2 linked regions of the Homo sapiens genome follow. Each later gene encodes a partner of the first gene's protein in a complex. Each region holds a gene or a part of one and is shown in the gene's direction. Other genes may lie near its edges.

What was found. The genes of interacting proteins can lie anywhere in the genome.
Region 2: the proteins of CFB (region 1) and CFP are in contact, whole or in part, in a crystal structure (PDB 7NOZ), measured with the Homo sapiens proteins. Residues at the interface, in NP_001701.2 of Homo sapiens: Glu54 (codon at 5,071), Gln56 (codon at 5,077), Ser78 (codon at 5,143), Thr316 (codon at 7,025), Tyr317 (codon at 7,028), Leu349 (codon at 7,441), Ser351 (codon at 7,447), Met394; in NP_001138724.1 of Homo sapiens: Arg329 (codon at 456), Arg330 (codon at 459), Asn331 (codon at 462), Lys333 (codon at 468), Pro341 (codon at 492), Met420 (codon at 2,504), Val421 (codon at 2,507).

Annotation. Positions count from the first base shown.
Region 1 is NC_000006.12:31,941,398-31,949,121, forward strand, and holds the start of CFB (complement factor B preproprotein), read left to right. Parts: upstream 1-4,697; 5' UTR 4,698-4,824; coding exon 4,825-4,888; intron 4,889-4,975; coding exon 4,976-5,209; intron 5,210-5,609; coding exon 5,610-5,795; intron 5,796-5,950; coding exon 5,951-6,124; intron 6,125-6,344; coding exon 6,345-6,446; intron 6,447-6,547; coding exon 6,548-6,684; intron 6,685-6,976; coding exon 6,977-7,115; intron 7,116-7,432; coding exon 7,433-7,564; intron 7,565-7,724. Other genes in the region: complement C2 isoform 1 preproprotein, read left to right, coding at 1,562-1,702, 1,828-1,922, 2,019-2,130, 2,247-2,412, 2,520-2,596, 2,738-2,829, 3,330-3,456, 3,583-3,632 and 1 more.
Region 2 is NC_000023.11:47,622,753-47,626,930, reverse strand, and holds the end of CFP (properdin precursor), read left to right. Parts: coding exon 1-158; intron 159-411; coding exon 412-603; intron 604-761; coding exon 762-873; intron 874-2,490; coding exon 2,491-2,656; 3' UTR 2,657-3,649; downstream 3,650-4,178. UniProt on the Homo sapiens protein: A positive regulator of the alternate pathway (AP) of complement. It binds to and stabilizes the C3- and C5-convertase enzyme complexes. Inhibits CFI-CFH mediated degradation of Complement C3 beta chain (C3b).

The DNA of each region.
Region 1 (7,724 bases):
TCTTTTCTGTGTGTGCCTCTGTGTCATTACATGCTGTTCTCTTATATAGATAGGAGACCCACTACCTGTGTCTTTGTGTCCAAATTCCTTTCTTCTTTTTCTGTTCATTTGTTTGAGACAGAGTCTCGCTCTGTCACCCAGAAGCCCAGGCTGCAGTGCAGTGGCGGGATCCCGGCTCACTGTAACCTCTGCCTCCTGGGTTCAGGTGATTCTCGTGCCTCAGTCTCCCAAGAAGCTGGGATTACAGGCATGTGCCACCATGCCCGGCAAATTTTTGTATTTTTAGTAGAGACATGGTCTCGCCATGTTGGCTAGGCTGGTCTTAAACTCCTGGCCTCAAGGCGATCTGCCTGCCTTCGCCTCAAAAAAACTGCCGGGATTACAGGCATGAGTCACCACCATGCCCAGCCAGTTCACTTTTTTTTTTTTTTTTTTTTTTGAGATGGAGTCTTGCTCTGTTGCCCAGGCTGGAGTGCAGTGGTGCAATCTCGGCTCACTGCAACATCCGCCTCCCGGTTCAAGCGATTCTCCTGCCTCAGCCTCCTGAGTAGCTGGGATTACAGGTGTGTGCCAGCATGTCTGGCTAATTTTTGTATTTTTAGTAGAGACAGGGTTTCACCATGTTGGTCAGGCTGGTCTTGAATTCCTGACCTCGTGATCTGCCCGCCTCAGCCTCCCAGAGTGCTGGGATTACAGGTGTGAGCCACCGTGCCCGGCTCACCTCTTCTTTTTTTTTTTTTGAGACGGGGTTTTGCTCTTGTTGCCCAGGCTGGAGTGCAATGGCGCGATCTTGGCTCACCACAACCACCGCCTCCTGGTGATTACAGGTGTGAGCCACCACGCCTGGCTCTGGCTTACCTCTTCTTATAAGGACCTCAGTCATTGGATTAGAGCTCACCCTAATCTAGTATGACTTAATCTTAACTTGATTACATCTGCAAAGACCCTTTTTCCAAATAAAGTCACAGATACTGGGGATTAGGACTCGAACACATCTTTCTGGGGGACACAATTCCACCATTACAGGGAATAAACAGGATAAGAAAACCATAGAACCCAGCAGGTGGTAGGTGACACAAGCTAAGGGGTGTTGCCATGTTGCCCAGGCTGGTCTCAAACTTCTGGCTTCAAGGGATCCTCCCACCTTGCCTCCCAAAGTGGGGATGAAAGTTTGTCTGGGGCATTGCAGTTTTAGACAGGAAGACCAGGGAAGGCCTCACTGAGAAGGTGACATTTGAGCCAAGACTTAAAAAGGTACGAAAGTGAGCCATGTGGAAGTCTGGGGGGGAGGAGTGAACTAGGCAGAGGCACAGCTGGGCAAAGGGCCTGAGGTGTGACCATGCCTATGGATTTGAGGAACTTCAAAGAGGCTGTGTGCTGCAGGAGAGTGAAGGGCAGGGAGTGGCAGGAAATGAAGGCAGACAGGTAGCAGTGGGGAGGACGCAGGGGTCCAGCTCATGTAGGTCTTGATTGGACACAGTGAGTTTCAGATGACAGCCTCCTGTCTCATGGGGTAGCCCCAAAGCCACAGGAGTCTGGTGATTTCCCTCTTCCCCACCAGACATCTATGCCATCGGGGTGGGCAAGCTGGATGTGGACTGGAGAGAACTGAATGAGCTAGGGTCCAAGAAGGATGGTGAGAGGCATGCCTTCATTCTGCAGGACACAAAGGCTCTGCACCAGGTCTTTGAACATATGCTGGGTGAGTGAGCTTTGCCCTCCTTGGTGTGGGGAGGATGGTGAGGAGCCCGCCAGAGGCCCGTGTTGGGAACCTGGACACAGTGCCCCTCACTTGCCTCCTTCCCCATCTGATCCTCACACCCACAGATGTCTCCAAGCTCACAGACACCATCTGCGGGGTGGGGAACATGTCAGCAAACGCCTCTGACCAGGAGAGGACACCCTGGCATGTCACTATTAAGGTACCAGGAAGGAGGGGCAGGGCTTGGATTCCAGAGGTAAAAGCGGCCATGGGCCAGACATACTGCAATCTCTGAAAATCACCTGTTCCCCTGCAGCCCAAGAGCCAAGAGACCTGCCGGGGGGCCCTCATCTCCGACCAATGGGTCCTGACAGCAGCTCATTGCTTCCGCGATGGCAACGACCACTCCCTGTGGAGGGTCAATGTGGGTAAGGCAGGGGATGCACCAGCCTCCTGATCCTGAAGCCACAGATCCTACCACCTCACCCAGCCTCTGGCCCCTGCAGGAGCCCTGGTCTAGCCTAATCTAGTGTATCATTTCCAGGAGACCCCAAATCCCAGTGGGGCAAAGAATTCCTTATTGAGAAGGCGGTGATCTCCCCAGGGTTTGATGTCTTTGCCAAAAAGAACCAGGGAATCCTGGAGTTCTATGGTGATGACATAGCTCTGCTGAAGCTGGCCCAGAAAGTAAAGATGTCCACCCATGCCAGGTGCCTGGAGTCTGGGATGGGAGGGTGCCCTGCAGGGAAGAGTGCTCTGGAGATCCCTGGAAGAGATACTGGGGACAGGCTGGTGTGACCCTTGCTCTTCTCCCCAGGCCCATCTGCCTTCCCTGCACGATGGAGGCCAATCTGGCTCTGCGGAGACCTCAAGGCAGCACCTGTAGGGACCATGGTGAGTGCTGGGACTTATGGTGCTTGAGAGCTGGGGCCGGGGTTTGGGGGTGATAACAAGGACTAGGCTGCAGTCCCCAAGCCAGGAACCTGGATTCTGGGTAAAAGGACCAGCACCAACATCCCCTTCTCTTGACTATAGAGAATGAACTGCTGAACAAACAGAGTGTTCCTGCTCATTTTGTCGCCTTGAATGGGAGCAAACTGAACATTAACCTTAAGATGGGAGTGGAGGTGAGGGTCTCAGGTTGGGGATGCTGGGATCCCCCTGTGACAGCTCCCAGAATGTCTCTCTTCCTTCTCCAGGTCTGGCTGCTTTCTCTCTCTGACGCGGGTCACCCCTCCTCCCAAGCCTCACAAACCTGCTAGGTGTCCCTGGGTCTGCTTATTCTTTTTTTGTTGTTATTGAGATGGAGTCTTGCTCTGTCTCCCAGGCTGGAGTGCAGTGGCACGACCTCAGCTCACTGCAACTTCTGCCTCCTGGGTTCAAGCGATTCTCCTACTTCAGCCTCCCGAGTAGCTGAGATTACAGGTGCCCACCACCACACCAGCTAATTTTTGTATTTTTAGTAGAGACGGGATTTCGCCATGTTGGCCAGGATGGTCTTGAACTCCTGACCTCAAGTGATCTGCCTGCCTCAACCTCCCAAAGTGCTGAGATTACAGGCGTGAGCCACTGCACCCACCCGGGTCTGCTTATTCTACCCTTCTCTCTGGTTCCACCCCTGCTGCAGTGGACAAGCTGTGCCGAGGTTGTCTCCCAAGAAAAAACCATGTTCCCCAACTTGACAGATGTCAGGGAGGTGGTGACAGACCAGTTCCTATGCAGTGGGACCCAGGAGGATGAGAGTCCCTGCAAGGGTGAGTCCCTCACCATGCCTGGATTCCCAAGGGGAAGGCCACCTGTGTCTCTGTGGCCAGCATGCATGCCAGAACACCAGTCCACTGCCCTAGATGACACTGTCTCCTGTCACCCTTTGCTGGCAGGAGAATCTGGGGGAGCAGTTTTCCTTGAGCGGAGATTCAGGTTTTTTCAGGTGAGAAGGTAGAAGCTTGCAGGACCCAGGGGTTACAGGATCTCAGCCTTGTTGGGGGGATGAGGGAGGCCTTTGAGGGATCTAGGGAGGTTGGGGCTTACAGTTGGGGCTGTGGCAGCCTCCCAGCCAGTTCTCTCCTTTTCTCCAGGTGGGTCTGGTGAGCTGGGGTCTTTACAACCCCTGCCTTGGCTCTGCTGACAAAAACTCCCGCAAAAGGGCCCCTCGTAGCAAGGTCCCGCCGCCACGAGACTTTCACATCAATCTCTTCCGCATGCAGCCCTGGCTGAGGCAGCACCTGGGGGATGTCCTGAATTTTTTACCCCTCTAGCCATGGCCACTGAGCCCTCTGCTGCCCTGCCAGAATCTGCCGCCCCTCCATCTTCTACCTCTGAATGGCCACCCTTAGACCCTGTGATCCATCCTCTCTCCTAGCTGAGTAAATCCGGGTCTCTAGGATGCCAGAGGCAGCGCACACAAGCTGGGAAATCCTCAGGGCTCCTACCAGCAGGACTGCCTCGCTGCCCCACCTCCCGCTCCTTGGCCTGTCCCCAGATTCCTTCCCTGGTTGACTTGACTCATGCTTGTTTCACTTTCACATGGAATTTCCCAGTTATGAAATTAATAAAAATCAATGGTTTCCACATCTCTCAGTGCCTCTATCTGGAGGCCAGGTAGGGCTGGCCTTGGGGGAGGGGGAGGCCAGAATGACTCCAAGAGCTACAGGAAGGCAGGTCAGAGACCCCACTGGACAAACAGTGGCTGGACTCTGCACCATAACACACAATCAACAGGGGAGTGAGCTGGATCCTTATTTCTGGTCCCTAAGTGGGTGGTTTGGGCTTACTGGGGAGGAGCTAAGGCCGGAGAGGAGGTACTGAAGGGGAGAGTCCTGGACCTTTGGCAGCAAAGGGTGGGACTTCTGCAGTTTCTGTTTCCTTGACTGGCAGCTCAGCGGGGCCCTCCCGCTTGGATGTTCCGGGAAAGTGATGTGGGTAGGACAGGCGGGGCGAGCCGCAGGTGCCAGAACACAGATTGTATAAAAGGCTGGGGGCTGGTGGGGAGCAGGGGAAGGGAATGTGACCAGGTCTAGGTCTGGAGTTTCAGCTTGGACACTGAGCCAAGCAGACAAGCAAAGCAAGCCAGGACACACCATCCTGCCCCAGGCCCAGCTTCTCTCCTGCCTTCCAACGCCATGGGGAGCAATCTCAGCCCCCAACTCTGCCTGATGCCCTTTATCTTGGGCCTCTTGTCTGGAGGTAAGCGAGGGTAACCTTCCCTTCCTGCTGTCTCCAGCATCCCTCCTTGGCCTTTTGGGGCCAGGCTTCATCAGCCTTTCTCTTCAGGTGTGACCACCACTCCATGGTCTTTGGCCCGGCCCCAGGGATCCTGCTCTCTGGAGGGGGTAGAGATCAAAGGCGGCTCCTTCCGACTTCTCCAAGAGGGCCAGGCACTGGAGTACGTGTGTCCTTCTGGCTTCTACCCGTACCCTGTGCAGACACGTACCTGCAGATCTACGGGGTCCTGGAGCACCCTGAAGACTCAAGACCAAAAGACTGTCAGGAAGGCAGAGTGCAGAGGTTTGAGGGCAATGAGTGTGGGCAGTGGCCTAAGGCAGAAACAGGGCAGGCGGCAGCAAGGTCAGGACTAGGATGAGACTAGGCAGGGTGACAAGGTGGGCTGACCGGGAGTAGGAGCAGTTTTAGGGTGGCAGGCGGAAAGGGGGCAAGAAAAAGCGGAGTTAACCCTTACTAAGCATTTACCCTGGGCTTCCAGGCAGCCCTGGAAGTCAAGAGAACACTCAGAAATGGGGAGGGAGAAGCAGTGGAAATCCATATGGGTTGAGGAGTAGGTAAGATGCTGCTTCTGCGGGACTGGGAATGCGCTGTTTCTCAGTGACATGGTCTCCGAGACCAGGAGGGATACACCTAAGGCAGCCTTTCCCTCTTGATGACTTCTACTTGTCCCCCCTTCTCAAAGCAATCCACTGTCCAAGACCACACGACTTCGAGAACGGGGAATACTGGCCCCGGTCTCCCTACTACAATGTGAGTGATGAGATCTCTTTCCACTGCTATGACGGTTACACTCTCCGGGGCTCTGCCAATCGCACCTGCCAAGTGAATGGCCGATGGAGTGGGCAGACAGCGATCTGTGACAACGGAGGTGAGAAGCATCCCCTCCCCCTACATTGCTGTCTCCCTGACGGCGCCCAGCCCGAGGAGTGGGCACTCGGCTCCGGACACTGTAACTCTTGCTCTCTACCTTGCTCACGGGGCCTCAGGCTTCAGTGCTTACCTCGATGTCTCATACCTCTGCAGCGGGGTACTGCTCCAACCCGGGCATCCCCATTGGCACAAGGAAGGTGGGCAGCCAGTACCGCCTTGAAGACAGCGTCACCTACCACTGCAGCCGGGGGCTTACCCTGCGTGGCTCCCAGCGGCGAACGTGTCAGGAAGGTGGCTCTTGGAGCGGGACGGAGCCTTCCTGCCAAGGTGACCTTTGACCTGTACCCCCAGGTCAGATCCTGGTCTTCCATCCTACTGTCTTCTCTCCCCACCTCAACCCTGCTCTTTCCTCACTTTGTTTAAACCTCCCTGTACAACTATCTCACTTCTGAGCCTTTTATACCCTGGAAACCCATGATCCCCCGTCTCTTTGGTCACTGTATCCCTGACACTCCCAGACATTTGACCTCATTTCTGACTCTCCCAGACTCCTTCATGTACGACACCCCTCAAGAGGTGGCCGAAGCTTTCCTGTCTTCCCTGACAGAGACCATAGAAGGAGTCGATGCTGAGGATGGGCACGGCCCAGGTTTGAAGACAGAGAAGGGAGGCAGGGCAGGGAACTGGGGGAAAATGGAGAAGGGACAGAACTGTTAATGCTGGAGCCTGAGCCACTCTCCTGGCACCCAGGGGAACAACAGAAGCGGAAGATCGTCCTGGACCCTTCAGGCTCCATGAACATCTACCTGGTGCTAGATGGATCAGACAGCATTGGGGCCAGCAACTTCACAGGAGCCAAAAAGTGTCTAGTCAACTTAATTGAGAAGGTGGAATCCTCCTATCCCTGAACTCGGGGGAATGGAATCTCGCTGATCTTCCAGGACTAGCTCCCTGATCATTCCAGCCCCTCTGAACAACAGGGCCCCAGGAAAATCTCCAGGTCCTATTCTGTCCTCCTTCCCTTTTACTTGAAGCAGTTTCTTGACTGGTAATTCCTCCATGAACCTCAGCCCTTGAGCCTCTTACTGAGAGCCTCCCTGTCCCAGCAAAGTCGCTGAAATCTCCCAATCACAGTATTCTATTTTCAATGCCATGGCGCCTTGTTCTCCTCACCCACAGGTGGCAAGTTATGGTGTGAAGCCAAGATATGGTCTAGTGACATATGCCACATACCCCAAAATTTGGGTCAAAGTGTCTGAAGCAGACAGCAGTAATGCAGACTGGGTCACGAAGCAGCTCAATGAAATCAATTATGAAGGTCAGAGGTTAGGGAATGGTGGGAGGTTCACTTTGGGGTCAGGAGGTTCAGGGTGGAGGGGGTCATGAGACTACCTTGAGGGCGACAGGGAGGACCACTTTGTAGTCAAAAGTTGAACAGCAGGATCGTTGGGCAATGGAGGTTAGTGGGAACCTGTTGGGGGCTGGAAGGGCCACTTTGTGGTCAAAGGGAAGTCCGTGTAATGATGATTAACTTAAAAAGTTGAAAGATGTGGGATTTCAGTTGCAGATTGGTCTCTGGGGTTAAAAGATGGCTTGGAAGACCAGGTGAGGTGATGGTCTCTTCCCTCTCCACAGACCACAAGTTGAAGTCAGGGACTAACACCAAGAAGGCCCTCCAGGCAGTGTACAGCATGATGAGCTGGCCAGATGACGTCCCTCCTGAAGGCTGGAACCGCACCCGCCATGTCATCATCCTCATGACTGATGGTCAGAAGGGACCTCTCTCCTGTCCCAGCCTCCCCACCTTCTCAGACCAGCATGTGGCCCTTAAGTCCACTTGTAACACTATACCCATGGTTGGGGCCCTGAATGTGACTCATAGCTGGCTGTTCATCTCTCCTGTGACCCTTCATAAGGAATTCTTCCT
Region 2 (4,178 bases), on another chromosome or scaffold:
GCCTTGGGGCCCTGTGAGCCCCTGCCCTGTGACCTGTGGCCTGGGCCAGACCATGGAACAACGGACGTGCAATCACCCTGTGCCCCAGCATGGGGGCCCCTTCTGTGCTGGCGATGCCACCCGGACCCACATCTGCAACACAGCTGTGCCCTGCCCTGGTCAGCATCTCAGGGTTCACGATTTGCATGCCTAAGTCCCCCTTGCCCTTCTCTGCTGCCCAGCTCCTGCTGCTGAGGCCTTGTTCCTGTCTCTGATTCCTCCTTTCCTGGCCCTGATACCTTGTTTCCACCCCTGGTCCCCCATTCACACATCTGATCACCTCTACTCCCTCCTACCGCCCTCATTCCTTCCTCTGAACCCCCTTGCTGATTCCCTGCTTTGGTCCAATCCCCTGTTGCCCTGTCTCTGCAGTGGATGGGGAGTGGGACTCGTGGGGGGAGTGGAGCCCCTGTATCCGACGGAACATGAAGTCCATCAGCTGTCAAGAAATCCCGGGCCAGCAGTCACGCGGGAGGACCTGCAGGGGCCGCAAGTTTGACGGACATCGATGTGCCGGGCAACAGCAGGATATCCGGCACTGCTACAGCATCCAGCACTGCCCCTGTGAGTGTCCCACAGACTGTGCTCTGAGGGTGGGGTGGCCCATGCAGGATAAGGGGTTTCCAACTCTCTGCTGTGGACCTCACGTCTCTGCAGCCTCCCTCTCACTTTCCCACCAAGACCTCCAGTTCTGACTCTGTGACCCCTACCCCTCATTGCAGTGAAAGGATCATGGTCAGAGTGGAGTACCTGGGGGCTGTGCATGCCCCCCTGTGGACCTAATCCTACCCGTGCCCGCCAGCGCCTCTGCACACCCTTGCTCCCCAAGTACCCGTGAGTGAGAGGGCAAAGTATGCCTGGGAGGGGGTCATTATATTACAGGCGGGAGAGTCGGCTACCCCAGGAAACCAGGGTTTCCACTGCTGAATCTAAGGTATCTGCCTTGCCGAGTGCCACCTCCCAGCTGCAGGAAGTGGGGAGAAACTAAGAAGATGAGAAAGAAGTTCTTGGAGGATAATTCGTAGCCTCTGTGCCCCTCAGTCACCTGTTCAGTCACTCATCCACTTAGTCCTTCATGTGTCATTGACTCCGACCTTCAGTTACCCATGCTTTTAGCTGCCATCACTCAGGCCTCCATTCACTGCCTGCCTCCCACAGTCACTCATGCCTCCATCCACTTTGTCAGCATCTCACTGAGCCAAGGCACTCCAAGGCTTTTTCAGCAACAGTTGCAGATACACACAGCCCAGATCCTGTGGATCCTCCAAGGGACCCAGCTGAGCAAGCCCCTGACAGGAGGCATATGAGGAACAGCTGGTGCATGCAACAGGTGCTGCCACCTCAACCTAGGTCCAGGAAGCTGACTGGGCCTCCCAGGGCAGGTAGGGGTTGGGAAAGGCATTCCTGGCATCAAGACTGTGAACGGAGCCTTGGAGCTAGGTGATTAGCCGCTATAAGTGTTTCCAGGTGCCAGAGGGGCCCAGGTGTTAGAGAGGGTTAAAATGTTCATCCCTTTTCTTCCTTCCACATACATCAAGCTACTAGATTAAGTGAACTATTCCCAGCTCGTGGAAGGGCTGCCATCTGGGAAGGGATCTCCCGGCTGAGGGGGTTAGAGTGGGGCCTGAAGATTAGAGGTGTTGAATGGAGGCACAAAGGACTTGAGTGAGCGAGAGACTGAGTGGAGGAAGAAGCAATTGAGAGAACTGGGATGGGAGTGAATGGAGGGCTTTCCTAGTGGGACAAATAACCCAGGTAAAGACCTTTCTGGACAGGGACTGAGCTTGAATAAAGTGGAGGAGACAGAGAGAGAGATTGGCTTGGGGCAGGGATTTGGGCCCAACAATAAGGCCTTGAATGTCAGGACAAGGCATTGGGTTTTTTCCTGGAGGCAGTGGAAAGAGATATAAAGGGTATATATTTCGGAGGTAAAAGAAAGTAGCTCATGCCAACAAGTAACATTCACCAGCATTTATTGAGCACTTGCTGTGTGCCAGGCACTGCTCTGAGCACTTTACCTGAATTAACTCATTTATCCTCATTCAACCCCGTGAGGTGAGTATTAATATTACTATTCCTACCATTCTCATTTTGCAGATGAGGGAAACCGAGGCACAGAGAAGCTAAAGAAATTGCCCAATATCCTATAGCTAAAAAGTAGTGTTGGGAGGCCAGGCACAGTGGCTCACGCCTGTAATCCCAGCAACACTTTGGGAGGCTGAGGCAGGAGCATCACTTGAGCCCAGGAGATTGAGGCTGCAGTGAGCTATGATTGTGCCACTGCACTGCAGCCTGGGCAACAGAGTGAGACCCTGCCTCAAAAAAAAAAAAGGAAAAAAAAAAAAAAAAAAAGTAGCCCTCGGCATATAGCAGGCACTCAATAAGAATTGAATGCATTCTTGCCTTCCCTGAGATTCTCCCTTCCGTTCCTCCCCACCCCTAATGCCTCAGGCCCACCGTTTCCATGGTCGAAGGTCAGGGCGAGAAGAACGTGACCTTCTGGGGGAGACCGCTGCCACGGTGTGAGGAGCTACAAGGGCAGAAGCTGGTGGTGGAGGAGAAACGACCATGTCTACACGTGCCTGCTTGCAAAGACCCTGAGGAAGAGGAACTCTAACACTTCTCTCCTCCACTCTGAGCCCCCTGACCTTCCAAACCTCAATAAACTAGCCTCTTCGAGTTCGTCTACGATTCCTTAAAGGAGGAAAAACAACCTATCCCCTTCCCCAAAAGTAGGGTGATAGCATCTCATAGGGCAAACAGCACAGCACGGGCCAAGACACAGCAGCCTGTTGCGGAAAACAGTATTTTCCACTGTGGTCGCAGGTTGGCAGGAGTGAAAGCGAGTGTGCAGTCCCAGCCTCTCCCCGCCGCTGCCATAACCCCAATGTCTGGGCCCTGCGCAGCCCCCTTAGAGCCTCAGGGCCGCCCGGCACGTTCCTCTGCAGAGCTCCGCGTTACGGGTTTCCTGATTGGCTACTTGTCCTGGCAGGCACTTCTTGATTGGCCGGCGTGCTTGTTCGTTGTCTCCCCGTCTCCTGGACCTCCCTAGATTCCCACCAGCCGGAACCCTGGAGGAGCCTCTGCCGGCCGACTCCGACTCCGCGTCAGTCGAGGATGAACGGCAGAGGCGTGGCCGAGGCTGGCACCCTGCCGCCCGAGCACCTGCACCCACCCACTCCCGACAGCCCAGCTCCAATGCCACAATTACCAGCGACAAATAGCTCGGCGAGGCGGGGGGCGGGCCGAGGAAGTGCCTGTGTTGCGCTCTGAGCTGAGGAGGGGCAAAGAAGCTAGAGTCAGTATCCGCCCGGAGGAGCCCCCAAGACAAATCCAGACACTTTCCTCTGGTAATTTGTTCATTCATTCAACACTTATTAGCGCCTGCTGTATGCTAAAGCTGAGTCTGAGCATCTAGGGTGGAGGAGGGCTGGTAGAAAGAGGACATCTGAGTGAGGGAACAGACTCAGAAGGTATTCCTTTCGTGTGAACATCTATTCAACACTTAACGCCTACTGTATACTAACAATAGTGCTGGACATCACGGAGAATAGAGAAGAAGAGGAATCAGAGCGTTACGTGTCTCCGCAGTAAAGGGAACAAAGCCAGACACCAGTGCTTTTAGCATTTGCTCATTCATTTACCACTTACTGAATGCCGGGCCCCTTGTGAAGAGACGCATCATAAGAATCATAATAATCATGGTAATAGCTACTACTTAGAAAGTACTTACTGTGTGCTTAGTAGTGTCTTAAGGCTTTCCATAGCATGAACTCATTTCGTCCACAGCAAACCCATGTGGGTAAGTATTATTATCCCCATTTTACAAAGGAAACACGCACAGAAAGGTAGTAGGCTGGACATTTTTGAAGCATCATGGATTGTGATGAGGTCTTAAATGTCAAGAGTGCTGTGGGTGGAGGGGACCCGTCTGTGTGGGAAGGTTCGGGTAGGAGGTTTGTGACATGCACACCCAGAGTATATTGGTACACTTACTTGACTTCTCTGGTTCGTTTTCCCCTTATTCAAGTGGACCAGTCAATGAGTTGAAGTGAAGATGAAGTTGATGAGTACTTACTTGGTCATCTTGGGAAGACTGAGCCAAAGTGAGGGGTTCTGGTTGCTACTACAGGGTATGA